Linked DNA regions of Homo sapiens. The protein of the gene in region 3 purifies or fractionates together with the protein of the main gene of each other region. This does not show direct contact. Each region holds a gene or a part of one and is shown on either strand. Other genes may lie near its edges. The genes, in order: UBR3, TRIM68, AHDC1 and CBX1.

The links.
Region 1: the proteins of AHDC1 (region 3) and UBR3 purify together in Homo sapiens (affinity purification with mass spectrometry; 3 studies listed by BioGRID and IntAct, with this or other methods). This does not show direct contact.
Region 2: the proteins of AHDC1 (region 3) and TRIM68 purify together in Homo sapiens (affinity purification with mass spectrometry; 2 studies listed by BioGRID and IntAct, with this or other methods). This does not show direct contact.
Region 4: the proteins of AHDC1 (region 3) and CBX1 purify together in Homo sapiens (affinity purification with mass spectrometry; 4 studies listed by BioGRID and IntAct, with this or other methods). This does not show direct contact.

What each region holds. Positions count from the first base shown.
Region 1 is NC_000002.12:170,075,045-170,082,775, reverse strand, and holds part of UBR3 (E3 ubiquitin-protein ligase UBR3), read right to left. Parts: intron 5,309-7,731; exon of another isoform or gene 5,173-5,308; intron 4,875-5,172; exon of another isoform or gene 4,389-4,874; intron 2,963-4,388; coding exon 2,753-2,962; intron 2,232-2,752; coding exon 2,092-2,231; intron 1,051-2,091; coding exon 933-1,050; 3' UTR 1-932. UniProt on the Homo sapiens protein: E3 ubiquitin-protein ligase which is a component of the N-end rule pathway. Does not bind to proteins bearing specific N-terminal residues that are destabilizing according to the N-end rule, leading to their ubiquitination and subsequent degradation.
Region 2 is NC_000011.10:4,604,955-4,613,063, forward strand, and holds the start of TRIM68 (E3 ubiquitin-protein ligase TRIM68), read right to left. Parts: upstream 3,278-8,109; 5' UTR 3,073-3,277; intron 608-3,072; 5' UTR 551-607; coding exon 125-550; intron 1-124. UniProt on the Homo sapiens protein: Functions as a ubiquitin E3 ligase. Acts as a coactivator of androgen receptor (AR) depending on its ubiquitin ligase activity.
Region 3 is NC_000001.11:27,593,700-27,601,430, forward strand, and holds part of AHDC1 (transcription factor Gibbin), read right to left. Parts: intron 2,383-7,731; exon of another isoform or gene 1-2,382. UniProt on the Homo sapiens protein: Transcription factor required for the proper patterning of the epidermis, which plays a key role in early epithelial morphogenesis. Directly binds promoter and enhancer regions and acts by maintaining local enhancer-promoter chromatin architecture.
Region 4 is NC_000017.11:48,098,479-48,105,361, forward strand, and holds the start of CBX1 (chromobox protein homolog 1), read right to left. Parts: upstream 3,001-6,883; 5' UTR 2,790-3,000; intron 2,709-2,789; exon of another isoform or gene 2,277-2,708; intron 1-2,276. UniProt on the Homo sapiens protein: Component of heterochromatin. Recognizes and binds histone H3 tails methylated at 'Lys-9', leading to epigenetic repression. Interaction with lamin B receptor (LBR) can contribute to the association of the heterochromatin with the inner nuclear membrane.

The DNA.
Region 1 (7,731 bases), on a different chromosome or scaffold from region 3:
TGAAAGGAAGTTCCAAAATTTATGGTTCATTTCTGGGGAAGTCTGAGCATTTCTAATACAATCATATAAACAAAACCTTGTTTGGTAATAAAAGGTGGGCATGCACGGAATCAACATCTGCCCAGTGTATGTTCTTAAACCTCTTGATTTCATAGTAAGATTTGTTATTACCTCTAGTAATTCATCCAACTGAAATGGCAAATTTTGATTTTTAAGGACCCCCCAACCACACATATGCCCCCCAAAATGTACTGTATTATATTAACAGCAGCTATCTACTTATTTTACAGCTATTTCAATTATTTACCTGGGGAGAAGATTTATGAAATTCCTGAGAATGAATTCAGTTTTCAGCAAAGCTTTAAACTTTTAACAGATTCCTCACAATAAGAAAAAATTTTAAAGTTCTACTATTAGACCAACTTTTACTATACAGTATTTCACATAAATCATGTTTTACATTTTTTTCTAATTACATACAGAAAAATTCTCCAATCAACACAAGAATGGCAGAGGAAAAAAGATGCATTATGCTTGGCAGATGCAAATTAAAACACACAGACAGAAAGAAGCAGTAAAATGTCAAATAAATCACACCCACTCTAAGTATCAATGAATAGCTGATACGCATTGTTGGGAGAATCATTTCTGAATGAGTTTGTGAACAAGTTGTGCTTCTTATTAATTGTGCACTTAAAAAATGACCACTAAAGAATAATTTAACTTGTTATTAATGTTCTCCAGATATTAAAAAAAAAAAATTATACCATTAACGTGATTACCAAGCACCTAATTTTGGAAAGGCTTCATAATGTATGTTTTCTTTTTCTCCCTCAGCAAAAGTGTTAATCCCCCAAATTAAGTTAAAGCTTATTGTTGAAAAATAAATTCGTAGCGAAAATGATGATACGATGCAATGCTGAGGTGGAGAGTCACAGCCCATTGTAATGTGGACCCCATCTTTTATTGATGTGATCAAAAGTATGAGAAATCCACTGTTGCTCAAGAACTTTGTATCTTTCCTTACAAATGTAGAGAGGTTTGCCTCGCCTAGAACAAAAAGAAAAAAAAAGTATTAATATCATACACGGAAGATTTCACATGCATTTCTTTCTTCTTTTTTTTCTGAGACAGTCTCTCGCAGTGCAACCTCCGCCTCCTGGGTTCAAGCAATTCTCCTGTCTCAGCCTCTCGAGTAGCTGGGATTACAGGTGCTCACCACCATGCCTGCCTCCTTTTTTTATTTTTTTATTTTTTATTTACTTATTTCTTTTTTGAGACGGAGTCCCACTCTGTCACCCAGGCTGGAGTGCAGTGGCACGATCTTGGCTCACTGCAAGCTCCGCCTCCCGAGTTCATGCCATTCTCCTGCCTCAGCCTCTAGAGTAGCTGGGACTATAGGGGCCCGCCACCACACCCGGCTAATTTTTTGTATTTTTAGTAGAGACGGGGTTTCACCATATTGGCCAGCCTGGTCTCGAACTCCTGACCTCAAGTGATCCACCCACCTCGGCCTCCCAAAGTGCTGGGATTACAGGCGTGAGCCACCACACCTACCACATTTCTTTTTTTACTAGATTCTTTTTTGAGACAGTCTTTCTCTGTTGCCCAGGTTGGTGTGCAGTGGCACGATCACAGCTCACTGCAGCCGCCACCTGCTGGGCTCAAGCGATCCTTCCACCTCCTCCCGAGTTGCTGGGACCACAGGTGTATGACCACCACACCTGGCTTATTTATTTTTATTTTTTTGTAGAGATGAGGTCTCACTATGTTGTCCAGGCTGGTCTCAAACTCCTGGGCTCAAGCAATCCTGCTTCAGCCTCCCAAAGTGCTGAGATTACAGGTGTGAGCCACTGGGCCTGGCCAACGGATTCTTTGTGGCAAAAACCTCACATGGTAATTTGGTGTATTTCATGTTTCCTCAACGTATTGATAGGGACAATAGCTCAAAAACTAGAAATAGCTCTAAATTAATGACTGTCAGAATTTCTTAATATTAAAAAAATTGTAATTACAAAGCCAGGAATAGCATATTGGTTTTCACTGACCAAATTTCAATAAAACACCTGGATATATCCATGAACATCTAACCTAAGATCCCGGTCTTCCTCTCCATGAGCATCCAAATACACGGAACCCCAGAGGCAGAAGCGGTGACCTCGAATGATGATAATTACCGATGCATTGATCAAAAGGAAAATACCTGTTCCTGCACCACAGTTCTGAGAGTGCTAAAAAATTAAAAATATATTAATGAACTTCATAATCAAATAGGCTTTATAATAAAATCAAGAATATATTAATGCCTTCTAAATAATACAGTGATTTAAAAATAGTAAGATTTCATTTAAGTTAAACTTATAACTCCATTCCTAACACTTTATTATTAATACATTAGGAGGTATTTGGGTAAGGAATATCTAGTAAAGCAATTAAGAGCCAACCTAATTCAGAGTCTAGTATCTTCAACAGCACAGATGACTTCTGTTTCACAGCACATTCCAAAGTACATACCATTAAAGGGATAGTAGATGAAAGGAGAACTAGAATTGTACTTAAGGAAGGATTTACTCACTTAAAGCCTCAAAGACTTTCTTTTTTTACTCTTCTACTGGATTAAAAAACACACACAATCCCTATATGTATTATATACTTAATTCAAAGAGTAGTTAATATGAAGAGATGGCTTGACCATATTTTGTGATATGAGATCTGTGTTTTCATAAATTTTGTATTATCTACTATTGCTTACCAGTACACATTCACAGTAACTTTGTTGCTTGCAGCAAAGTCCTTTCAGGCATACAAAAGTACCACACACAAGGCAAACAGCAGGATCTTTAGGAACCTTGGTGCAGACACTACAGGTTTTTCTGTGGTAGTACTGAAAAATGGTGTTATAATTCTCAGGCAACTGTAGTAGGTGTGGTAATTTCCATTTTGACTCTTGGATAAGCAAGGCCTAAAACATTATCCAAAAATATTCATTAGTTTTATGTATTTAAGTCACTAACACAATATATTTTTTAAATGTATTTTTACAGAAAGAAAAATCTGCCTCCAAGAATGTGGCTTATTTTCTTTATTAACACTCCTCTCATTTCCATCTTATACATGACTAAAATAGTAGTTCAACAGTTACCATTATCTAATGTATTATAGTTTCCAATTACAGTATGATTTAATTTTTTAGATTAAGCACCTTAAAACATTTAAACTTGTTATTACTTTAAAAGAAAAACACCATCTCTAAGCATGCAGGGAAAATACATCTAATTGTATTTGACTTTAAACATGCATAGTGCAAAGGTTTTTAAAAGTTACGTATTTTTTAAAACCAAGTTTTGATCATTCTCAAACAATTCTTTAGCTTTTTCTTTAGGACAGATCATGGTTATAACTCATTTTTTCTACTTTAATACTTTATAATGTAGAATTGCTTTCCTAGAGTATGTACAATTCATTGCACCTCAAGCTGTTAAGATCTTTTATATCCATAAGTGCTGGGCTACAATTCTTTTCATAAATGTCTTGCTATAAGAATAAAAAAATTGTCAAATTAGTTAAATTTCCCTGAAGGGTATGCTTTATTAACTATTTGCAGCTGTATAAAAATACTGGCAGCAGCACTAAATTTTTCTAGATGCTACTCCATTCACACTTAAAAAAGATAAAATGTAGAGTGAGTCTATTATCTTAAGAAACTGTAAGTAATAGTCAATTTAAATGGAGATCATCTCACATTACCTACATGCAGCCATAATCCACCTAAATCAGTGGAGTAACTAAGCTAGCTTGTTCCTCATCAACAAGTTCATGGATTAAGTGTCCATGGAAGCAATGATAAGAACAGTATACAATACATCATTTGCCAATACTCAGCACCCAACCCTGGACTCCAAGGATGGCATTCTGTAATGAGTTGATTACAGTGGAACCCTTCCATTAAAGGGAAGGGATAACAATTTGTCCTCACTGAACTTGACACTTATTATAGGTTAGGCTGCATGTTATCCAGTAGCCCATAGCACATTACCTCCAATAATTTCCCTCATGAAGAGAGATGTAAGGCAACAGGTGGATGTCCATGGAATTCACTGATCTTAACATATATTCAATCATCTGAAAAAAGCTGTGGTATTTTAAATCATGAACTACAAAACTGATTTTTTCAGTGCCACAAAAATTATGAAATTCATGAAATTTACAAACTTTTAGATGGCACCAGCTGGAAGAAATCACCTACAGAATGTGTATGCTCTAAACAGCAACCAGTATATATGGGTGACCTTTTTCACAATTGGAATGCATATGTATGGGAAACAAGAGGTGGAAAGTATTTAACAGCTGTAACACCTCTCATGATTACACCTAAAATTCGGTCTTGCCTTTCCTGTTGCGGCCTGTGTGGAGTTCACTCGTGGGTCTCTGAGACCCAAAAATTGAGAGCATTTTCGCACCCCAGGGGCTGCGCCTGTGCCATGCCACAGATCAAATATATTGAATTACACTGTAAATGCCATGGATATCATTTGGATTACCATGAGAAAAAGGGAAAGAAGGAAAGTTGAGAGGCTTATGAACATTCAAAGAAGTCAAAGAAAATGATTGGTCTGAAGGCTAAGCTTTATCTTAAACAGCACCATGCTGAGAAAATACAAATGAAAAAGACCATCAAGATGCATGAAAAGAGAAACACCAGACAAAAGAAAGACTCCACAGGGAGCAGTACCTGCCTATCTGCTGGACAGAGAGGGACAACCTCAAGCTAACGTACTTCCCAGTATGATTAAGCCGAAATGAAAAGAGAAAGCAGGAAAATGGAAAGTCCCTCTGTCTAAATGTAACTTGCCCAGGGAGATACAGAAGTGTTAAGAGTTATTTGAACAGAGCCAGGTGCAGTGGCTCATGCCTGTAATCCCAGAACTTTGGGAGGCCAAGGTAGGCAGATCATTTGAGGTCAGGAGTTCAAGACCAGCCTGGGCAACATGGTGAAACCCTGTCTTTACTAAAAATACAAAAATTAGCTGGGCATAGTGGCAGGCGCCTGTAATCCCAGCTACTCAGGAGGCTGAGGCAGGAAAATCACTTGAACCCAGGAGGCTGAGGTTGCAGTAAGCCAAGATCGCTCTACTGCACTCAAGCCTGGGCAACAGAGTGAGACTCTGTCTCAAAGTTATTCCAACAGGAAAGAGAAAGACGCAGGCATAGAGGAGGATGGTTACTAAAGTCTGCTTTGTTGGAGATGGCTTTACAAGAAAACTACTTATCTATGGAAGATTCATCAGGCCAATGGGCTTGCGTTTCAAGAAAGCCCATGTAACACATCCTGAACTGAAAGCCACCTTTTGCCTAACAATACTTGGTGTAAAGAAGAGTCCCTCATTCCCAATGTATATAACTTTGGATGTTATTACCAAAGGTACTGTTACTGAGGTGAATGTGAGTTGGGCCTTGTGACACAAGGAGGCAAGGTTATTTGGGGAAAATAGGCTGTGGTTACCAACAATCCTGAAAATGATGGATGTATAAATGCAGTCTTACTGGTCTGACAGCACTTTCATAGATATTTATTGAAGACTACACACCAACTGAAAAAACTGCCATTACTGTGATGTTTCTGAATACTACCAAACAGCCTTACATGTCTGCAATCAAGAGATTTATTAAATTGTAAACATTAAAATGGAAAAAAAAATTCGGTCTTAAATTTCTGCTTCACTGCTATTCCGGACTCTTCTGCGGATTTACAAGCTATGTACTGTCTAACCTCTAGTACGGTTTATAACATCACAAGGGTGGCTTATCGCATTGCCTGGAGGGATTGACCATGACTATCAAGAAGAATAAAAATATTGCCATACAATTGGTAGAGCAATATTTTGGAACTTAAAAACCCCTACCACCACCCCTACCATAGACCAAGCTTGAAAGGCAGAAATTTAACACAGAATGATTACAGCCTTATAGAAACAAAGACAGGACCAATCACCAGAAGCTCAGCCCTTTCAGAATAAAGTTTGGTATCACATCCTTGCTCAAACAAATCCAATCATCCGTTGAGGTGTGCTGGATCACGGATGGTAAAAGAAGAAAGTCATATATATTTGACTGTATATTAGCTGCAGCTTTATGACTACTTGCAAATCTTGCTTACTGTATCATATATCTTTGCAACATTTTCATTCTCTTACTATTGAATTCAGGGTGAGCAGGTACTAATTAAAATTTTCCAGGCCATCTGGGTGTGAGTACAAATGACAGGAACAATGGACATCTCTCAGAGCTACTGGATGCAGAGAGGCCTGATGATGTAAGGACTATATGTGACATCAGGTTGCTTATTTGGGAAAGTCACAGATGCATTTGCAGTCATAAGTAAAATGGTTACATCATTTTCAACAGCAGAAGTGAAACTGTGAATGAGAAGAAGGGTGTGTATGAGCCAGGCAGGTAAGATGTGAAAGTAGTGGGCCACTAGTTTGTTTTTTAAATCCTCCTAGCATCCTTTGCTGCTTTCTTATATTAATAACATTATAAGTTCTTTTAGAAAATAACCCCTTTTCTTGCTCCGTACAGTTCTGATGGGGCTGTCCCCAACACAAGATCCTGCCCCACCACTGGGGTATATGTATTACAACAGTTAGGCCAACCAGATTCTCTCTCCCAGGAATCTGAACCTTGAGCATGCAAATTAAAGGAAGGAAAATGGTTGAGGCTTAGTTATCTGGTGGCAGCACTTCAGAGAAAACAGAGCAGAGATATTTGTGGTTTCTCTTCTTCCCAAGCGATGACAGTTAAGCTCTTCAATTCTGCAGGTTACCAAGTATGCTTCCAATGAATCCTGTTTTTTTTTTTTTTTCTGTCATAGTTTGCTTTGGTTTTCCTTATTTTAAATCAGAACTGGATTTTGTTGTTCCCAAACAAAGAATCTTAACTGATAAAAAAATTCAGAAGTAGTAATTCACAGACAGTTTTTCAAGGGTAGTACTGTTGGACTATACAGCTCCTGTCACCATTTACCCTGCTAAGTCTCGCTATACAGATTTAACATTCCTGAGAAAGAGAATCTGGTTGACCTAGGGTCAGGATCAGGGTTAGGAACACAAGAGTGGAGCAGGGACACAAGGGGGAATACAGGTCAAATGGTGGTGTACTTACATAACTGGCAAAAATTCTGCATTAGCATAAATTAATAAATTAATCAAATGTCTACTACACTGCCTCTACAATAATTATCACCTAATTATATGAAAAGATTAAATATTTTAAAATGAAAAATTCTTATTTTCCATCAGCATACATACAATAATCATTCATCTAAAATGTAGGCTTGATTTTAACCTATGGCTCATATGAAGACAAACTCTGGGTGTGCTCATCACTTTTTTCCCTGCCTTGGTTCTACAATTATACCCCTCTTACTCCATGTCATCCTGCATAGGTTTTCAGACATCAAAGTATGATGTCAAATTATTGCTATATGCTCTGTGAATAAAGAAATTACTAGACAGGAAGATATTTGTATATGTAATATGCAAGATTCAATTAACTTGAATTTCCCTTTTTTTTTAAAAAAAGGGTATAAAATGAGATAGCATCTTTTTAAGGATTTCAGCAAAAAATGGAAAAGAACAAAAGCAGAGACATTTATAACTTATGCTTATCTTTTATTATTCACTCCAATGTTTTAAAAATGAAACCTAGTCTGACACATTCATCTGAAATATT
Region 2 (8,109 bases), on a different chromosome or scaffold from region 3:
CTCTGGGTGTCAGGAACCAAAGGAGTTAGCTCTCAGTCTGTGGTGCTGGTGGTCAAGCCCTTGATCTAGAAACAGCCAACTTGGGGCCGGGGTTAGACTGGAGTGGCCAGCTTCCATCTCTCACCTTGTACTCCCAGGCAACATCCTCCATTGGCACAACACTGTGGGCCTCATGCTCTGGGGACTGGCTGCAGGCCTCACACATTATCAAGACATCCTCTTTGCAGAACATCTTCAGCTTTTCCCCATGGCGCTCACACAGGTCACCCTTCAGCCCCATTCCTGGATGTAGCCTTAGCAGACGGACTTTTTCTACAACATTGGCCAGCTGCCAATTAGGCCGCAGGTTCCTTGGCTGGACAGGAGCTCGACAGAGGGGACAGGTGTAACCCCAGTTCTGGGATTCTCCTGGGATCTCCCAGAGTCCAGAGAGACAGCTGTGGCAGAAGCTGTGGCCACAGTCAATGCTCATGGGCTCCCTCAGGAAGGTCATACAGATGGGACAGGCCACTTCTTCCACAATGGCTTCCACCAAGGCTGTGGGATCCATGGTTCCTTCTCACACCCTCCTCAGAACATGAATGAAACCAGGGAGAAGTAGTAAAGGCTGAGAAGAAGAAAAGAAAGACAAATAAGAGAAAAAGGTAACAGAGGAACAGAGAGATCAGTAACAGGAATAATTAATTTCTGGGGGAAAACCACCTTCCTTTTGACCCTTTACTGACCTTCTTTAATAAGCATTGGCCTTTCCAACTGAAGGGTGCATGGTCTGAACGGGCCACATTACTCATACCATGAAGGGGATAATGGGGATGCCTAAGTGAGTGAATATTGGGAGTCCTCGGTTTTCATTCACTTGGTCAACTCTGATTTTCCTCTGGGTTTGCTCTACTTGACCATTACCACTCCAATCATGCTCTACAAATCAGCATTATTTCTCTTAAACTTGGGTAAGTTCACATAAAATGTGGTATTTCAGTATCTGAAGTAAGGCCATAAATACCTCCAGCCTCACTCTCTGGTATGTTTATATTTACATTAATATAATTCAAAGTGTCAAAAGGTAGTATGCCAGAAGCCCATTGCCTACAAGCTCAATTTGTTTTCTTGTGTTGCACACTAAAATGCAAAAACTGTAAAGGAAACAGCAGTTCTTTTCCTGTGCCTTTTAAACCCCTGCCCACTGCTCCAGCACTAATGTACTTATTATTCACCAAGATGTCAAGGTAGTCTTCTGAGCTTTTAGTGATATGCTAGAAGCAGAGATGAAATAACATCCCTTGGAGATTAAAACAAAGATCATTTGATGATCATCACACCCATATTGATGAAATCACTACACCAGCAAGAAATCTGAGATTTTTGCCAGGGCCACATATGGGCATGGAACTTGGTCAATGGCAGGCTCTTGGCTCAGTTGGCAATATTTATTCATTCACTTTGCTAGTTTGTGTTACCAGCTAGAATCTATACAAGGAAGGGACATGTTGATCCTAGTTCCTGTTGTATCCTCAGCACCTAAACAGCACCTGCAATGCAGATATTGCTGAGTAAATATTTGTTGAATGAATTAACCAGCTAGACATAGGAAATAGTTCCTAAACCCAAAATCCTTTTAGCATTTGTGAGGTAAATTGAGAGCATACATTAATAATAAAAGCAAGCACTCTTTGAGCAGTTCTATGATGTGCCAGGCACTGTTCTGAGCACTTTACATGAATTAAGTTGGTTTATTTCACAACCCTAGGCAGAGGCCATTATTGTTCTCATTTTACAGATGTTTGGCTTGGGGCTCTGCCATCTATCTTGGGCAAATTTCTTAACCTCTTTAGCTTTAAGGTATAATACAAATTCAAGAGGAGAGAAAAATCACTGTGGTTTAGCGCAGTCCAGTAGCAGGAAGCAGGAAGCAGAGCAGTAAATCTTGCAGGACTCTGATATGCCATTGGCAGGGCATGCCTTCTCACTAGACTCCCTGCCTCCTGCTTTTCTTCCTCCCACTATCACTACCAAACTGTGGGATCCAGTATCCTAAAACCTCATTTTGGTAAATCACTAACTTACTAAATAATCTATCCTGGCTCCCGGTTAACAAGATCTCTCCTTGAAACAGCACCTGTGCCCAGCTAGGCAAAGGAATAAACTTCCACACACTCCCGCAAACCCCTCGTCCATTCAATCTACCTGACTTGGGTGCCTGCTATTCTCCCAGCTGAAAATGACTTCTACATGATCCTGCCTTTGACGTCATTTGCCATGTATTCGTCTATTGTCTTACTTCCCATACTAGAACTTTTTCATGTGGATAGGGTCATTGTCTGTTTTGTCCATTTCTATTTCCCCAGTGCCAAGAACAGTGCCTCAAATACTTGTTGAATACGTGAAAACTAAATGTAAATGTTGAGTTCCAACCGATAGTAGATTGAAAGTGGAGGATGTGTTAATATCCTTAGCTAAGTCAGTAGAGACATTAAGAGACACCATCTAAAGTCAATAAAACAATAAATGGAAGTTGATACCCATTATTTAAAGCTACAAATGGAAGACCTAAAATAGCGATGGAAAATTGACAAGATTGTGGCAGTAAGAAAGTAAGGCAAAGAAATATCAAAATGATAAATCCAGAAATACAGTGGAACGCATATTATTTTGATTTAGGGTGCTAAAAACATCTAAATGGGGACAAACTAAAAGTGGCAGCCTCTGCAAAGATCTGGGGATGGGTAGTTACTGCTCTTCAAAATAAGACCTGCTTTAATGTTTGACTTTTTATTATACATGAATTACTTTGAGAAAATTCAAATAATTAAACGTTCGGTTGCTTTGACTGTGCCTTCCGTAGGGTACAGCGAGAGTCTGAGAAGGGCATTTGAGAAGGGGGCGGGGCCTGGAAGACTTCCAGTTAGGACCCCAGCGGGAAGGGAGTCGAGGGGCGGGCGGTAACCTCCGGAGTCAGGGAGCAGCTCCTGGCCTGGCCACAGGGCGTTGGGCAGGTCCCCAGGACAGCGGGCGGGTGGGGGTAAAGTGAGCGTGCGGGATCTGACTTCAGAAAAGGCAGAGTTATCTACCCACCTCCCTCCTCGGCCCGGACTGGCGCTTCGCGGCGGAAACTCAAAGTGAAGAAGCCTGGTTCCGCAGCGTCCAATGGCCCAGCGTCAGAAGCTGCCGTTCCCGGCAGCTCAGCACTTAGGGCCAGAGAGCGGCAGAGGCCCAGAACCCAAAGCCCGGCAGCGCAGGCCCAGTAGCCCGCAGCTCCCAGAATACTACACCCGGCTCTAGGCCCCGCTCGCGGGACGGCAGCCAATGAGCGGCCGGCTGGGCCCAGGTTGGCTTCGCCCAGGGGGCGGTGTGTTTGTGGGGGCAGCCAATCACAGGCAGGGACCAGGGTACCCCTAGCCAATTGGTGATGAGACGGGGGTTTCGGCGCTTCTAGGCATGTCAATGTTTTTTCTCTACTTCCTGGGTTTTTCTGGTCCCTTCACCGACTCAGATTCCCTTAAACTGTAGAGGGTTCTAGGAGTTAGTTCTAGGATAGGTCAAAGGATTGAGGCTCCCAAATGATGCCGCTCAGGCACTGCATTAAGAGAGGCTCAGGTGGCTATTCATTTGCCAGTTTGACTTGTTAAACTCAGAAGCCTGAGATTGGCCAAGTCTGGTTCTGTGACCCATCTTAGCAAAGGGTTGGGCGCACATATGGTGTGGACTCTGCTGTTCCTGGCAAGATTCGCGACCTCTCATGGTTCCAGGCTTTAAATACTGGGTTCTTAAACAAAACAAAACAAAACAAAACAAAACCCTCTCTTTTTTCGTTTTTACTTCAGCAACCAGCTTGTCATCACTATTGCCACAATCCACTTTTAGAGTGAAAAACAGACAACAGAGACCGGGAGTTGATGGAGAAATGGAAACCCTGGTCAAAAATTGTCATTAAAAAAGGAAAAAAAAATTAAACAACTGGTATCCCTTCCTCACCCAAACACATAGACACATGCACGCACACACAAAAACTGTTACTTAAGACAGTGATATGGGTTTTTCTTTGTACTCCCAGGGCCTTGTCCTTCTCTTGACACTTAGGTTTTAATAAGCAAGTGAAGGCACCTCCTATCCGCATAGAAAATAACCAGGAAATCTTCCAATTGAAGCTCGGTTCCAAATTATATAATATCTTAATTGTTAGGACAGATACTCCAGAATGCTCATGCCAGTGTCTGAGCCCCGGCCATGGTTAAAATTCTGAAGGGTGAGGCCCAGAAATTTCCTGCAACAAATAGGTCTATGAGAAAAAACAAAAGTATCTTAGGTCTGAGCTGTACCCTCTGTCTCACCCAGTTTTGGAGAAATGGCTGCTCTAATAGAATAATGAATGGATTAATTGAAATAAGCCATTTTAAACATTTATTTAACATCAATTTTCTTGACAATATTTTACTGGGTGCTGGGATTACAACTATGGGACATATAGTCTCTGCCTTTAAGGAGCTGAAGGTCAAGTTGGTTGTACTGCTCTGGAATCTCTGTGAAGTTAAAACAGTTAATGGGGAGATCATTTTCATGTGTAAGGTGCAATTTGTAACTATGACGGACTGTCAAGAACCCTGGCAATCAGGGTAGCTGGGGGTGGGGGCTTGCGTTCATGTGGGGAAGGCTGGAGAGAGGGCTTTTGAAGACAGACCAGTTTACTTCCAAGGCATAGAAGCTTTCCTTTACAGATGTCTTCAGAATGTTTTGTTTGTTTCTTTATTTGTTTGCTGTGAGACAGGTGTGTCCAGGTGAGGCTCTGTCGTGGACAAATTCCACAGCTGTAGCTGCAGACCCCAACCCTCTGCCCTGAATCCAGGATAGACCAGGACAACAAGATGAGTGGCTAACTGTAGGATGGTGTCCATCTGTGCTCTAGGGGAGGAGTAGCATCAAAGGAGAAGCAAGAACTGAGAACTGTTTGGGGCACTGAAGAAGTAGGACTAAGGAAGAGTTAGGGGGTTAGTACAAATCTGAGGCCTGGTTTTCTGGAAAGAGACCAGAGACTGACCTTATTGCATGTCATACAACATGCTTGCTTAGAGACCCCTAATTTATTTTCTTCTCTTACTCTTTCTGAGGAAGCATGAGCCACACCCTCAGTTAGTTTTGTATAATCTTAGGCTTGATGAGAATATAATCTTAGTCTTGAAGGCTTTAAAGGGGAAGAAATAGCTGTCTGTGTTAGTGGTGTGTCAGTCAGCAGGAGAACCTGCTAGGGGTGGAAGGAGGAGGGTAGGAGTATAGCCTAGACCATGAGTAGATACCCCGCTCCACCTTGAAAGTCTCCTACTGGACCTCTTATGATGGAGTTAATACCTCCTGTTTCCTCTATTCCAGATTGTTTTCAGTTTCCAGAAGGCAAAACTGACATCTCCCAGGAGTCCAAGTAGGAGATTAGGGCCTCCCGTCCCTATCTACTCAGTGCTAGCCTTGGCTAAGAGAGAGGAAATTCCTGCCTAGAGGGGAAAATCTGCAGGACTTCGTTACCACTTTCACTTTGGCAGAGGAAGGAGGTCAGGGATGGAAGGGGAAGTGAGTCTAGAAATTAAAACATAGAATTCTGTCTACAGGTGGTGGAGAGCCTTTCTGAAAGTGCTTCTGGGTTGAGGCTGTCACCTAGATTTTATATTAGAGTTTAAGTGTTCCAAAAAATTAAGAAGCAGGAAGTAGAAAAGAGAGAACAATTTCAGAAGCAGACGAAAGGAACAGTAATAGGAAGATCTAGCAAGGATGTGGTGGGGCAGTTTCAGTGTGAGATGCCATGGACAGGAAAATGGCAGCATATGTGTGTGTGTGTGTGTGTGTGTGTGTGCATGAGACAGAGAGACATAAATAACTAAATAAAAAGGTATATATCAGAATATAGATGTATATTACAATAGCAATTGTTAATAGTGACACACAACTAACAGTAAGACTTTTGTACAGTGGGAAGCAGAACAAGCCAAATGCTGTTATTAGTTTTGATATCAGAGTTGCATTAGATTAAAACAAGAAGAAGTAGCTTTATATGTCCTTGTATTTGATGTCTAATTCAAGTTCTTTAAATGTCGAATCTGTTTCAGTAAGTTACTATTCTCAAAGTATCAGTGTCTCCATGGTTATGAACAATTACACAAATAATTATTTTTATTTTTATTTGCCATTACTTTGAGTTTTTTTCTTGATTCTAATCCCTGATATTATATATTTACCACTACTTTATGTTTTTTTTTCTGAGTGACATATCTTTCTTTCCAAAGATCTGTCTAATTGATTGTTCCTTTCAAAGAACCTGTTAATTTGTTATTTCAATTTTTTTCTGATTTTATCTTTATTATTTTTTCTTGATTTATTTTACTTATATTTATTGTCTTATTTTTCTTGCTTCTTGCATTGATTGAGGAGTGTAAAGTTTTCCCTAAATATAAGTCAGGCTATATACCATAAATCATCTTGGTGCTTTCGTTATCATTTGTTATTAAAAAAATTATTAAGCACAGTTTCAAATTTGCTTTTCTCTTGAAATTACTTAATTAAATTGAAATTCTCTCTCTATATATATAATTTATTTAGGTTTGTTAGCATTTTATAACCACAATGCAATAAGAGTTTAAAAAATGCCATTATAACTTATCATTTGGGAAACTGTTTTGTGGCCAACTATATAATTGCATTATATAATTGTTCAGAAGGTACTGGAAGAGAAGGCATATTCTCTATAGTGGAAAATACTAAATTATATAGTCTTCTTATCAGAGTGTAAAATGTGTTTGTAGGGATTTGGCCTAACTCATTGCCACGTGAATAGCAGACAACTGAGAGAAGAGCCAGTCAATCAAAATGCCTACTAAAAACAAGAGTTGAAAATGCCAGAAACCTATTTTAAGCATAAAAAGGACTTATTAAAGAACATTTGGTAGTCCATTGATGATGTATGCAGGAACATCATCAAATTACCCCATAGGTCCACTCTGATGGAACTACCACTACTGGCTCCATTGAGCATAGTCAACTAGGATCTCACTCCTAAACCTGGGTGCAGAGACTGACACTAGAATCTCTGCCTCTGATATCTCTGGAAGATTTACTCTTCTGTCAGCACTCTTCACCAGAATGATTCAATGTGGCATTTTGCTTTTATTTTCCTAGCTTCTGAATTGGCTTCCTGGAGGTGTGCATGATTGACAGCACTTAGACAAAATGCCTTCTCCCATGGTGGGTGATTATTCCCATCTATTTTCTCCCTTTTTGTGAGGGGGACATACAATCTCATCCATTGCCTCATGACTCACAGTGCTTCCCGATAGCTGGAGAATGCTTTCTAGGACATTATGAGACTTGGCTATATGACCATCTTGGGTCGTTGAAATAGGAATGGAGGGAAGTGTTTCAGTTCCATAGAGAAGCTCTAAGAGACATTTCATGTTTGTACCACCTTTTGTTGTTTTCTCATTGTCACAATAAAGGCATATCACAAAGAGGGGCTCCTGCTTCAGCTTGAGTCCTGGATGCAAAGACATGTGGACTGGGATCCTAGCAACCTATCTGCAGCCAAGGACATGACGTGTGAGTGAAAACATTTGTTGTATGCCCCTGAGATTTTGGATTTTCTGTCATGGTATGAAAGCTGATTAATTAGGTAGGAAGGTGACTTCTATGGCTTTTCTTTGGGAGAAGTAGACGCCCCAAGAAAAGGAAAATTGGTCAAACATAGGAAGAGCACTCAAGTGCCAGCTACAGTGAATGACAAATACCCACCACAAGCACAAGCTCTACATTCACAAAAACTTGGAAAACACAAGTAAGTCCTCAGAACAAAACATGGCTACCACATAGTATAATAGCTCATTCCCTAGTCAAAGAGAAATTTAGATCCACATTGCCATCACTGGCCACAGTCCTTAAAGAGAATTATAATGCTCTCTGGGGAGAGACCAGAAAGGAAACACAAGGGGAAAAAACAGGATTGATGGTTTCAGGTTTTCAGAACTGTTTTATTTGTCAGTTGGTGTCTATCGTTTGGTGTCTAGAGCCCGGAAATTAACTCAGGATATACCTAATGTTAAATGACGAGGTGATGGGTGCAGCACACCAATATGGCAC
Region 3 (7,731 bases):
CCCTCCCTATCTCACCAATCCCTGCTATCCCCCCAGGGTGGGCAGACAGCTGGGCTAAGCCAGTGCCTGCGGCTCCCCAGGGCACAAGAGGCAGGCAGGAGATCGATTCACTGAATTTTTTAAGGCCCTAATGGAGCCTGCATCCCAGGACTTGCTGGGCTGGGACACAGGCGATGTCTTGGGGACCCTTCCCACAGCACTGCAGTTGCTTCTTCTTTAGGGTCTTGGGGATCAGTGGAGCCCTTCTGTGAGCCTTCCCTCAGCAAGAGAGGAGGCACGAGGGACCTCTAGGAAAGAGAAGGGATTTGGGGGCTGTGAGCAATACCCAGAGCCCCCCTATCTCCCCAGTCCTAATGCAGGCAGAAGCAGCTCAGCCTCTAAATCACTCCCCTCATGCTGCCCTCTGAGGCGGATTCTGTGCATCTGTAATTAGGGGGTGGAACAGATGGTGGAGATTCCGTTTAAAATCATGCATCTAGTAAAGTAACCTTCACTGTCGGAACTGACTCCCAGGGAGACCAAGCCCCGCAGCCTGGATTTGGGGGTGGGGGGTAGTATGTCAATCCAGCACCTTCCCCATCCCTCTCCCTGAAGCCCCAGGCCCCATGTCCCTCTCAGGTGAGCCAAGGGGTTGGGGGAGGGAGGCAGTGATTTGGCAAGCACTTGAAAAAGTGTGGGCTGGGGGCAACTCCCCCTGTCCCTCTCTCCCACATACATGCCAGAGCCAGGGCAGGGCTGGGTACTGAGAGTTCCTGGCTGAAAGACCAGGATGACCAGGTGCCAAGGGGCTCTGCCCCCACCCCAAAGAGGCCCCAAACCTTTAAGCCCAGGCCAGGGTGCCCAGAGCACAGGGTCTTGGGTGGGGCAGCTTTGAACCAGATGTCCAGCCTCACTGTCCAGGAATGAAAGGCCTGGGGCGGTGAAGGGGTGGAGATGCCTCCCCAGGCAGAGGAGGCTCTGGGAAGAGCGGGAGGCCTGGGCAGCAGAGAGAGAGAGAGCGAGAGCACACAAGAGTGAGCAATGTGTGTGACAGGCTGAGGCTGTCTAGGGGAACAAGGTGGGGGAGAGGGTGTGCTGGAATGTGCCAACGGTGGGAGTGAGGGCTGCAGAAGGATTAGGCGGGGTATGTGACAGGGTGCCGTGGGGTGCAGGCGGAGCACAGAATGGGTGCAGGGTTGTGACTAGCTGAGGCTGTCTTTGTGTACAGGTGTGGTATCGGGGTGTTTGGAGAGGTGTAGGGGTGTCCCTGGGCCCTTAGGTGGCTGAGGAAAAGTACCGGAGCTGAGACTGTCTGGGAAGCGGTGGGGCCGGGCCATTAGGACTGCCTGTCGAGGAGGTGCCGGGATCCAGGAGGCAGTGTGCACAAGTTTCAGGAGGTATTAGAAGCTTCGGGGCCTGATCTGTTAGAGATATACTAGAACCGAAGCCATGTCTGTGTGTTTGAGGCAAATGTTGTGGCTACAGAGGGTGTTCTTGTTTGAGTGGGTGTTTGAAGCAGTGAGTGTATGTGTGTTGTAGGGGGAGGCTGTATGTTTGGAAAGGTATAGGGGATGATACCGGTGTTTGGGGAAGTGCTGAGCTATAGCTGGGAGAAACGTTGGGGGCTGTGGGCAGAGTGTGTGTGTCTGGGGAGGTGTCAGGGCTTTGAGGGTATGAGTCAGTGGGAAGGTAGCAGGGCTGTAGCTGGGTCCTGGGTGTATCTGGCAGTGTTGGGGTTGGATAGGGGGTTGATATGCTGAGGGTGTGATAGCTGTGTGTGTGTGTGTGTGTGATTGTGTGTGTGTTGGGGTGTTTAGGGATGTATTGGGGGGTCATAAAAATGTGGGTTTTGGTTAAGTACTAGGGCTGTGAACATGTGCCTGGAAAGGTGTTGTGGTTGGTGGAGGATGCACTGTGGTTTTGGGGAGGAGCTGGGGAGTGTCTCTGGAAAGGTTATTGGGATTTTAATTGGGTACCTGCAAGGGTCTGGGGAGGCGTTAGAGACCTGAGGTCCCTCCATACGTGGGAAGGGAAGAATGGGTCTCTGATATCAGAGATGTGCCACAGGCTATCGTCCGTGCATGCACAGGTATGAGGGCTGTAACCAGGTTCCTGGTGTCAGGGAGGTGTTGCAGGTTGTGGGTAAGCATGTGGTGGTTGTGTGTTTGGGGGTATGTGCATGTGAGGTAGCTGGATGTCGGGGGGTATCTGTATGTAGAGTGTGTGTGTGGAAGTGTGTGGGCTGGGTGTTGTAGGTGGAGCAGTTGTGTTTTAGAGGTGTTAGAGCTGTGAGTGTGTATGTGGGGCAGTTGTCTATTTAGAAGGTGTTGGGAGCTGTAACTGAGTCCCTGGACCCCAGAGAGGTGATGGGGCTGCAGGGTTTGTGTGTGTTAGGGGGGATGCCCCTCTGGGAGAATGAAGGGCAGCATCCTGGCCTTTGCTCCGGGGCCTAACTGGGGGCTACCCGCTAGAACCCCTATGGTATGGGGTGCCTGTGCGGGGGTGTTGAGACAGGCAGTCCATCTGTCTCAGCCTGTGCCCAGGCCCAAGGAGCAGAGCTGCCTCCTCGCTCCCTGGGGGGCAGCAGCGGATCCAAGCCCACCCATCTGCCTTCAGATGGTCGAGGCAGGAGCCTCCACAAAGCTGCCTGGAGGGCAGCACTGCGTTTGAAGAGACACAGGCTGGGGGTGGGGGAACTGCACAGCAAACAGTCCTCACGGAGGCTCCTTTAAAAACCACTGACGCCAGAAGAGAGGAAGAGGGAGGACAGGGGCGGGTATGTCTGTCCTTGTGCATCTGTGTGGGTCAGTGCCCAACTTCCAGGCCGGGGGCCCCTTCCCACGTGCTTGTGCTGGATGTTCCTGTTCAGGTAGCACTCAGGCCTTGGAAAACACTGCTCCAATCCAGGCAACAGGCTCCCAGCCTCACACCTGAACTACACCCTCATATCTGCATAGTCCCTACACTCACACGCACTCATACACCTTCCCACATGCATGCCTGCCACTGCACGCTCACACATGCAGTTTGCCCCATGCCCTTAAACCTTCATATATGTACCCCCATCACACATACCCCACCCTGCAAAACCCACAGTTACACACACCCATCTTACACACACACCTATCACATAAACGTGCATCCACACATACATACCTGACAAGTCACTCTCACACACACACCCACACACTCCACACACCTTGGAGCTCCCTGTCACACCCGTACCCTATCTCACATACACCCAGTCTCTCTCACACTCCATGAGGACACTCGCCATCCCTTCTACCTGCACATGCAAGCACATGTTTATACACATATGCCTCACCACCTTTGAGACAGCTCCCCACTACCCAAGCCACTGGGCATTTCTCTGTGTCCAGGTCAGGCCCTGAAGCTTTCCAGAAGGGCTCTCACCGACTGAGAGGACCTTCTGCCTCCCCACCTTGCCAGCCGGGTTAGAGTATGGGGGTGGGGGGCAGGTGGCAGGGGGAGGTTCTGTGTGCTCTGGTGTGACTGCCACTGTATGTAGGAGGGTGTCCCATGACAGGGCCTGTGAGTCAACACCTGTACAGGGAAGGAAGCACAGGTGCGTGTTCACCAGCTATGTTCGTGAGATGCAGAATGAGTGTGAGGGTGGAGATTTACATGTCACAAATTTGTGTGTGTGTGTGTGTGTGACAGTGTGAGAGTGTGTGTGTGAGAGAGAGAGAGAGAGAGACGCAGGGCCTGTGTAGACAGGTGTGACCGTGGGGGCTGCGTTTATACGAGGGGCATCCCCCGGGTGAATGTGAGGGGGTGTTTCCCAAGACAAGAGAGGTGCACATGTGCATCTGGTGCAGGGGTCAGGGCTGCAGGCCTCTCAGCAACCCCCTCCCCCTATGAAAAGAGGAGCAGGGAGCAAGGGGCTCTGGGCGGCTTCTCTCTCTTGCTCTTTCTCCCTGACCTCTTTAGCAGCTGGAAACTGAGCCGGGGGTGGAAGGAATGGAGACTTGGCTGGCCTGGGGGTTTGGGGAGGGAAGAGGGAGAAAACACCTTCCAGATTCTCATCAAATCCCTGTTTGTGGTTTGCAGCCTGCAGTCTTCTCCCTCCCTCTCCCTCCCTCTCTCTGTCTGTCTGGGTTTCCCCCTTTCTTTATCTCTTCCTGTCTCTCAGCCTCCCCATCTCTCTCCTTCTCCATCTCAGTCACTCTGTCTCCTTTCTTTTCTCTAAGTCTCTGTCTTCCATTTTTCTGCCTCCTCCTCTCTCTGCCAGCACCTCTGTCTGTCCGTCTCTCCCTGTCCCAGTCCATCTGTCCGTCTCTCTCCGTCTGTCTGTGTGTGGGTGTCTCTGTCCATCTGTTTCACCACCCATCTGTCTGGCTGTCTGTGTTAGTCCTTCCAAGGGTGCCCACTCGCTCCCCAAGGCACCCTCCCCCAGGTCAGCAAGGCCTCTCCTGGCTCAGGGGGTGGGGAGGGGGTGCAGAGCTGCAGCTTCTGGAAGCTTCAGTGGCAGCTGGGCTGAATTGGGAGTTCGGGGCCAGCCAGCTGCAGAAGCAGCCCCTCCCCTGGGCTCCCAGGCCAAGGACCCCAGAGCAGAAGAGGAGAGAAAACAGGGCCTCATTGCAGTTGGGTTTGTGTGTGTGGTGGAGGGGGCTGGAAGGGGGCTGGAGGGAGGCAGGGCCTCACTTTACTCTCACTTCACCATTGCCCCCGGAGCCAGGCCCTGCAGGAGAGGGATCCTTGATGCCCACCTTCCTCATCCCCTGGCCAATGGAAGAGATGCTGGGATCCAGGAGGGAGGGGCCAGGAGAGGCCAGGCCTTGGGCGAAGGAGGGGCTGGGAGCCAGGGCTTCCTGTCAGCTGGGCTGGAGGGGGGCTCCTTCCCTCCTCCTTTCCAGGCAGTCCCTGGGGACCCCTCCTGCTCTGGTCCCAGTTCCAGGCATGAGGGGTTGTTCTTGCCAACTGCACTGGGGCCATTCCCACCTCCATCTACCCATAGGGACGTGGGGGGATCACACCAGTGTCACCCCCACAACAGTGGAGGCTGGTTTTGGCCATGTAGTGACCCTGGCCCTGTCTAGGCACTGGCCATCCTGAATCTAGCACCTCACACACAAATATATACAGTGCATCCCAGTGCTCACCGCCTGCCCAAGCCCCCCAACACCAGCATCCACCGTCATGACATGAACGCAGAGACCAGCACCCTACCTTGCACTGGTGACAGCGCCCCCGTCACAAAGCCAGCAGCTTCAGACAGCATCCCTTAACATTCTCCCTGGCTACTCTGTCCCTGTCCCCCACTCCCTCTCCAATAGCTCACAGTCCAAATCCCACAATGGATGGGGAAACTGAGGCCCAAGAGGAAGGGATGGGAGGACACAGTCATCCCTCCTGAGACCCTGGGGTAGGATCATAAATGAGGAAAGAAGAAAGAGATGCTGCAGGGGCAGAATCAGGCTCCTTCCTGACCTACCATGGGTAAAGTCCATATTGGCTACACCCTCCACACAGCCCTACCACAGGGCCAGGGCCAGGGCCAGGGCCAGGGGCTGGCTCCCTCCCTCTCGAGCTCTCCTTGCCCCTGGTTGGGCCCCCTCCCTCTCCTCCCTTCTGAGCAGCCCTCCCTGCCCTCTCCCTCCCAGCTCTGGCTCTCTCATCCTCAGCTCTTGGAAGCCTGACTCACTGTTTCCCCTCCTCTCTCGCCTCCCTCCCTCTCTCTCCCGGCAGCAGCGGCGCCTCCCCCTCCCCTGGGGGGGCTCTGGCCACAAGGGTGCCTGCCTGCTTCTCTCCCCAGGCTCCGGCCCCCTCCACTCCCAGGAGGCCCCCTGCAGCTGTTCCAATTCTCTAACTACAGTGAGGTGGAGTGCAAACAGCCCAGGTCCCAGCCTGGTCTTGCCAAAGGTATCTGTGACCCTGAGCAAGTGGCTCCTCTCCCTAGACTTGGCTTTCTCTCGTCAAACAAGTGGGGGGCGTCCAACTGGATGATGCTCCTGGCACCTCTGGGACCCTAATGTTTCCCGCTTTTATAACCTGGGTGTCTTTTGGCACAGAGCACCTGACAACCTGTAGGGTGCAGTACCTGCCACAGGCCACGCCCCCCCGGGTCCCAAGAAAAGCTCAGCTCTGTTCCAGGCATTTGGGGAGGGCAGAAGGGAGATGCTACCCTGGGACCTGAAACATTTGTTGAAAACCCTGGAATCTGTCTCCCCATTCTCCCTCCTCCTGTGAGAGTCTCTCTCTCTCTCCCACCTGTCCTCCTCCCTCTTCCCAAACATCTGCTTGTCTCTCCTCCAAAAACAACCCCAGAATCTGATCTTGGGTGAGAGGACCTCAGGGCTGCCTCCTCTCTGGCTCCAGGGAGGGGAGTGGTATATTCCTAGGCCTTCTTGGTCCCCGGCCCCCACCTCCAGGGGCTGTAATTCCAGATTTTCTTGCCTGTTTTCTCTTTCACTCTCATCACTGGCTTTGGTCTCCATCTTTCTCTCTCTTCACCATGCATGTGGTTGTGGGTCGCTCCCCCGCCCCCCTCCCTGGGGGGGGCCCATCTGCAGGCATTAGCAACAATGTTACCCTTGCTTCCTCCCATAGTCCCCAGCTCCACTCCATCCTGGCTTCCGCCTCCCCACTCTGTCCCAAGAGACCCAGGGGACCCAGAGACAGAGCTGGGCTCCATCCCATAATAGTGAGTCTGCTTGACCTCACCAAGCCAGACCAGAAGGGCCTGGGCATCTGGTACACAGGCATGGCACCCCCTGGTCTTGGGTGGCTGGCATGAGACACAGAGCTCTGTGTTCTACAAACCAAAAAAAAAAAACAAAAAAAATTGAAATTGACCTGGGGGTGGGACAGAAGAGGGGAAGGGGGAAATGAGGGAGATCAGGTTTGCCTGGAGGAAGCCCCTGTCCAATGGGGAACAGAAGCATAGAGGTGGGAGTGGTTCAAAGTCAGTGCTCCAGGCTGATTGGAGAACAACAATGTCCCTCTGGGGCTCTGCCAGTCCAGAACAGCTCCCCCTACCCAAATGTCTTCTGCCAGGGGCAGTCTGCCCCTCAAGCCTCCAGCACAACCACAGCAATCAGGTGGAGACCCCATCTTTTAACCTTTTGAATCCAAGTCCAACTTCCCTACTGTACACCTCCACTTAGCTCAGCAGGGGGTTCCAGAAGCCTCCCAGCCCAGATCTAAGCCCATGCAGTGGGGGTAACAAAGTCCCCCAGCTCCCAAACCCCTTCCCCAAAGGCCCCATCAAGGGCTGGGGAGCAATGCAAAATAACCCCAGAACCCTCACGCATTGAAACTGAGAAGCTATGCTGTCCCACAGCGCCTGAGGGTGGTAGGGGCTCCCTGCCCCCACGACCCTGTTCCAGACCCCCCAGCCCAGCAACAATAATAAACAGCAAGCTCTTTTTCTTTATGACACCAAATTTCTCCAAGCCCAACAGCTCCTTCCATCACTACCTCAGCCATAGATCACATTAAAAACTCACAGAGGGCAACTTAAACACATCACATTTGTTTCTCTCTATATTATTTCAAAAGTAACGGCATTAAAAATGGATTTTACTACAGAAAATAAATATCGGCACGTGGGCTGGGAGCCCAGGCGGAGGAGAGCGCCCACCAGGGGAACGTTCCTGAGGGCTTGGGCACAGTTAGGCACTGACCAGACTAGAAAGGCCAGACTACACCTTGGGCTTGTGGGTGATTCCTGGGGAGGGGGCAATGCCTGCCCACCTGGGCATCTGCCCCAAAGCCAGATGAAGAAGGACA
Region 4 (6,883 bases), on a different chromosome or scaffold from region 3:
AGAGGTGCGTCCCCATTTTTTCATTTTTCTTTTTTTGAGACAGAGTTTCGCTCTTGTTGCCCAGGCTGGAGTGCAATAGCGCGATCTCGGCTCATGGCAACCTCTGCCTCCCGGGTTCAAACGATTCTCCTGCCTCAGCCTCCCAAGTAGCTGGGATTACAGGTGTGCACCACCACGCCCAGCTAATTTTGTATTTTTAGTAGAGATGGGGCCAGTATGGCTCCATTTTATGGGAGCCCATAAACTAGCAATTAGCCTTCTACACCAGAAACTCTTCGTGGAAAGAACCTATGAAGTGAAAATCTACCAAATCTAATGCAAAATCTCTTACACCACTGCAGATAGGATTTTTTTTTAAAAAAGGGAGGTTTTGCTAGATAAACCACTAGAGGATGCCAAAATTTAATGAATTATTTTCAAATGGTGTGAACAACAAAGAGAAACATTTTCCTAGTCCTTAAAATGGGCACAAGAATGAGTGCTATCTTTCTTTAGAGGTATAGTTTGTAAGTTATAGGTATCCTGTATTCAGAAATGCAGAAGACCAGGGTAACTTACTTACCACTAGGCTTCTATTTACATTCAAAACTATTTATTTCACACACCATCTATCTACCTATCATCTATCTTTTCTTTTTTTTGAGACAGAGTCTCGCTCTGTTGCCCGGGCTGGAGTGCAGTGGTGCAGATCTCGGCTCACTGCAACCTCTGCCTCCCGGGTTCAAGCGATTCTCCTGCCTCAGCCTCCCGAGTAGCTGGGACTACAGGCATGCGCCACTAGGCCCAGCTAATTTTGTATTTTTAGTAGAGACAGGGTTTCACCATGTTGGTTGGCCAGGATGGTCTCGATCTCTTGACCTCATGATCCGCCCACCTCAGACTCCCAAAGTGCTGGGATGACAGGCTTGAGCCACTGCGCCCGACCCTACTATTTATTTTTTTAATGAGAAACAATTTAGGATACAGCAGCCATTGAAGAAAAATATCACCACAGGGAAAACCGTAAACGACTTCAGGTCCTCCACTCCCGTGAAGCTTCATTAAGGTGCCACCGGTTTCAATACAAGTGCTTTTCAATCACACCACTTTCATATAAAAGTCTATAAGGCACCTAGGGAGGAACACCGGCATTAATTTCCCCATTGTATTCCTGAATCTATTCCAAAGCCTTGGACCTTTCACAATCTTTCCAAACTGCTGATGTGACTCTTAACACAATTGAGGAGGCTACTTTACCCTGGGCTAGGGGTTCTAGTATATAACTGATTATAGCTGAACTTTTTGTAAATTCCACCTCAATTGCGTTAAACCAACACGTCTAAATGTAACACCAATTTATGAAAAACCCTCATTTGAAACTTTGAAAAAGAGGTAAAATATGGCCAGGCGCAGTGGCTCACGCCTATAATCCCAGCACTTTGGGAGGCCGACGCGGGAGGATCACGAGGTCAGGAGTTCGAGACCAGCGTGACCAGTACGGTGAAACCCCGTCTCTACTAAAAATACAAAAATTAGCCGGGCGTGGTGGCGTGTGCCTGTAATCCCAGCTAGTCGGGAGGCTGAGGCAAGAGAATCGCATGAATCCGGGAGGTGGAGGTTGCAGTGAGCCAAGATCGCACCACTGCACTCCAGCCTGGGCAACAGAGGAAGACTCTTCTCAAAAAAAAAAAAAAAAAGAGGTAAAATATAGCTCACTCTATTCAAATTTTCCAACAAGGAAAAGCTGGCTAAAAACAGAAGGGCCCACGAAACAAATATTACCTCACAATCTCACATAATTTTCCTATGTCTCCCAATTTCTCGCACCTCACACGATCTCACAATCTCTCACTACCTCACGCCGTTCCTCAACTATTAACTCATCTACATATTTTTACAATTTCATCACCTTTGTGAGACCAGTTACGATCCCACACAAAAACGTACGGAACTAATTTTGAATCAAAGCAAGAACTGCACTTGGACTTTTTTAACTCCCCAAAGGAATCATGGAGTGAAGGTAGTAGGAAACCTGGAAAACTGAAAAAAGCGTATTCCATCCTTTCTTCGCACATTATTCTTACAGCCTCCCCACTGTAAGGACCCATCAGGATGCAAGGGCGGCCTGCTTTCCCCTTTTTTCTTACATACCTTATAGAAATATTCTCGGGATCTCCGCCCTACTTATCCTAACAGCTCCTCCCCTTCCAGAGTCAGGCCCAGCAAACGCCTGCCCCTCCCCCTCCGTGTCCCCTTTCCCAATTTATTCCACACATCTCCTCCTCCAATCAGCACACCTTGTGCGGCCCTGGGCCCTCTTCCAATTCACTCGACGTTACTCCTCCGTAGTCCTGCAAAGCCAGGTTCCTCTGGCAGTCCCAGCCGGACCCGGCGTCTTCCGAATACAGTTACAAACCTCGGGTTGTGCGGTCGTATGCGCCTCCTCACGCCTATCCAAGCCTCAAGCCTGTCCCCTTCCGCCCTATCCCGCAGCCGCCCAGCCAAGCAACATTGTTCCAGACCACCCGGGCCCCGAAGAGCGGCCCCCAAGTGCTCGGCCCACCCCCAAGCACTCAGTCTCTGGCTCAGGATTCGCGCCCCGCCCTCTCCATCCTTCACGCAGCTGGCACCGACGCCTCAGCGACAGGCGAAGAGCTCAGCGCGGGAAGCGGAGAAGCAGGACGCTGGACCCGGGCGCGCTCCCCGCTCCTAACCTCCGCCTCGAAAGCGCGTTCCCTCACGCAGGGCTCCCGCCGCCGCCGCCGCCGCGCCCCCTCCCCCAGCTCTCCCGCCTCCAGCGGGCTCCTCACCTCAGAGCAGCGCCCAAGAGCCCGAGAGGAATCGGTGCTGCGCTGCTGGCGCGTCGCGTCGGGTCGCCTGGGGGAGTGGCGCCCAGGAAGGCAGCAAGCCGGGTGGCCGCAGTGGCGTCCCTCACTGAAGCGGCGTACCGCAGGCCCCGGCCAACGGCCCTCCCCTCAGCCGAACAAAAGAGCCTCGCAGTCTGCGCTGCCCGCCGCTCGCACCGCGCAGGCGCAACGACCCGCCGCACGGCACCATGGGCCTCGGGGGTCTGTCCAAGACTACAAGGCCCGAAGCGCCGCGCGCCGCGCACGCACAGTAGGCGAGGGTGGTAGGGACTTATAGTTTTTAAACTGTAACGGTGGAGAGATTGCAGCGTAGAGCGTTGTAACCTAGAATATTAGAACATATGGGCCAGGGGCAGTCGCTCACGCCTGTCATCCCAGCACTTTGGGAGGCCGAGGCGGGTGGATCACCTGAGGTCAGGGGTTCGAGACCAGTCTTACCAACAAGGTGAAACCCTGTCTCTACTAAAAATGCAAAAATTAGCCGAGCGTGGTGGCAGGTGCCTGTAGTCCCAGCTACTCAGGAGGCTGAGACAAGAATTGCTTGAACTTGGGAGGCGGAGCTTGCAGTGAGCCGAGATCCAGCCACTGCGATCCAGCCTGGGCGATGGAGCGAGACTCCATCTCAAAAAAAAAAAAAAAAAAAAATTAGAACATATGATTTTTATAAGCGAGCCCCCTGATGCTTGGCCCCCAAAAAATCAACCACTTCTGGACAGTTCTGTAATTCACATCCTCAAAATTTTTGAATCTTAGATTCTTCACCAGAACTTTATCATATCGCCGCTGCCTCAAATTTCCAATGATTTCTTAGTCCTCAATCTCTGCCTCCTCAAATCTCTGTAAAATTCCTACTCACGCCGGCACGGTGGCTCAAGCCTATAATCCCAACACTTGGGGAGGCGGAGGTGGGTGGATCACTTGAGGTCAGGGTTTCAAGACCAGCCTGGCCAACATGGTGAAACCCCATCTCTACTAAAATACAAAAATTAGCTGGGCGTCGTGGCGGGCGCCTGTAGTGCCAGCTACTCGGGAGGCTGAGGGAGGAGAATCGCTTGAACCCAGGAGGTGGAGGTTACAGTGAGCCGAGATCGCGCCATTGCACTCCAGCCTGGGCAACAAGAGCGAAACTTCGTCTAAAAAAAAAAATACTGTTCAGTGTTAAGATTACTTCCCCTTTGAGGTCTTCCCTGATTCCCTAGAGTAGGTTAGGTCCCCCCATAGGCCTCTCATAGCTTCCTGAATTTCCCCCTTTTCACTGGCTGCGCCACAAAAATGTCCTCTTTTTCATTGTAAGTTGTGCTCACCTTTTTCAGTGTCATTAATCTCCGTCAGCACCTTTCACCCAATCATCCCAAGGAAACACACAATTAGGAAAAAAACATGTTTTTAAGCCACAATATAACTAAAGTTTTATTTTTTTATTTTAAAGTATCCTTCTAATCAGGAGGAAGAGGGAAACTCTATTGCACTCTACCCCAAAAGGCAAGAGTTTGCATTTATAAGACAGTTTTGCTGATGCAGGCACTGTTCAGGGCAGGAGTTTGCATTTATAAGACAGTTTTGCTGATGCAGGCACTGTTCACGGCTCTGGAGAACTGTCATGTAAGAAAAACCCAGCCCAGCAATATCATAATAGAGTTTAGTTAAAAGGGCTTCAAGAAAGCACAGAGAAGATGAGAGGTGAAGCCAGCTGGACTTCCTGGGTCGAGTGGGGACTTGGAGAACTTTTCTGTCTTACAAGAGGATTGTGAAATGCACCAATCAGCGCTCTATACCTAGCAAGGGGATTGTAAAATATACCAATCAGCACTCTGTAAAAACACACCAATCAGCCCTCTGTAGCTAGCAAGAGGATTGTAAAATGCACCAATCAGCACTCTGCAAAATGCACCAATCAGCGCTCTGTAAAATGCAGGAATCTAAAAGTAGCCAATCACAGGGAGGATTGAAAAAAGGGCACTCTGATAGGACAGAAATAGCAAATGGGCAGGGACAAACAAGGGTGTAAAAGCTGGCCCCCTGCCCCCCACCCATTCCTGTTAGCCCGCAGCAGCAACCTGCTCAGGTCGGTTTCCACGCTATGGAAGCCTTGTTCTTTCGCGTTCTTTCGCTCTTCACAACAAATCTTGCTGCTGCTCACTCTTTGGGTCCCTGCCAGCTTTAAGAGCTGTTTTTAACACCATGAAGGTCCGCGGCTTCATTGTTTAAGTCAGGGAGACCACAAACCCACCGGAAGGAATCAACTCCGGACACAAAGAGAGCAATTCTTCCTGAAACATTTGGGCTGGGTTTCTAGGAAGAAGCAAGTGAGAAGCAAGCATCTCCTCACTTCCTCCTGTAGTGTACTGTTTTTGACTGATGATGATGAGAAAATTAGTTGTAATGATAATTAGCTACTATTAATGAGTGCTTTTTTTGTTTTTTTTCCCTGAGGTGGAGTCTTGCACTGTCGCCCAGGCTGGAGTGCAATGGCAAGATCACGGCTCACTGCAACCTCCGCCTCCCGGGTTCATGCACTTCTCCTGCCTCAGCCTCCCAAGTAACTGGGATTACAAGTGCATGCCACCATGCACAGCTAATTTTTTTGTATTTTAGTAGAGACGGGGGTTTCACCATGTTGCCCAGGCTGGTCTTGAACTCCTGAGTTCAGGCATCCACCCGCCCAAAGTGCTAAGATTACAGGCGTGAGCCACCACTTCTGGTTTATTTTTTATTTTATTTTATTTATTTATTATTATTATTATTTTTTGAGACGGAGTCTAACTCTGTCACCCAGGCTGGAGTGCAGTGGCATGATCCGGTTCACTGCAACCTCCACCTCCCAGGTTCAAGCAATTATCCAGCCTTGGTCTCCCGAGTAGCTGGGATTACAGGTGCCCACCACCATGCCCAGCTAATTTTTTTGTTTCCCGAGACTGAGTCTTGCTCTGTCACCCAGGCTGGAGGGCAGTGGTGAGATCTCGGCTCACTGCAACCTCCACCTCCCGGGTTCAAGCAATTATCCAGCCTCAGTCTCCTGAGTAGTTGGGTTTACAGTCGCCCGCCACCGTGCCTGGCTAATTTTTGTAATTTTAGTAGAGGGAGGTTTCACCATGTTGGCCAGACTGGTCTTGAACTCCTGACCTCAAGTGGTCCCACTGCCTCCGCCTACCAAAGTGCTGGGATTACAGGTGTGAGCCACCGCACCCAGCCTTAATTTTTGTATTTTTAGTAGAGACGGGTTTTCACTGTGTTTTCAGGCTGGTCTTGAACTCCTAACCTTGTGATCCCCCCGTTGCAGCCTCCCAAAGTGCTGGCGTTACAAGTGTGAGCCACCACACCCGGCCTATTTTTTTTTTTTTTTTTTTTTGAGACAGGATGTTACTCTCTCTCCTAGGCTGAAGTGCAGTAGTGCAATCACGGTTCACTGTAGTCTCAACTTCCCAGGCCCAAGTCATCTTTCCCCCTCAGCCTCCTGAGTAGCTTTGAGCCACACCTTACTCAGCTAATTTTTTCTATTTTGTAGAGCCAGAGTCTTGTCACATTGTCCAGGTTGGTCTGGAACGCCTGGGCTCAAGCAGGCCTTGACCTGTCTCGGCCTCCCAAAGTGCTGGGATTACAGATGTGAGCCACCATGCCTGGCCATAAATTCTTGATTGATTTAATCTCATTTCTATCTAACACCCAAACCATATTTCTGTCTACATAAAATGCTGCCATCCCTAATTCCTTGTATTGAGCTGAATTCTGCTCCCCATGGAGATGCCACCTATTTTCCCTAATTCTGGCATCTGTAGCCACACAGTAAGCCTTATCTTTCTTTCATATGTTTCTTCTAATATTGAAGTTCAGCCATCATGTTCCCTGAGGTCTCTATTTAAATGTCATCATTTTCCTAAACTGTACATTACAGGGCAACAGTTTCAGATGTATCATATTTATTGTGTTAGTAAATTCTGGCTCTTATATGTGTGTTTCAAGGTGGAGAGGGCCATCACTGCCTTTGTCCTGTATACCATTCTTTTTTTTTTTTTTTTTTTTTTTTGAGACGGAGTCTC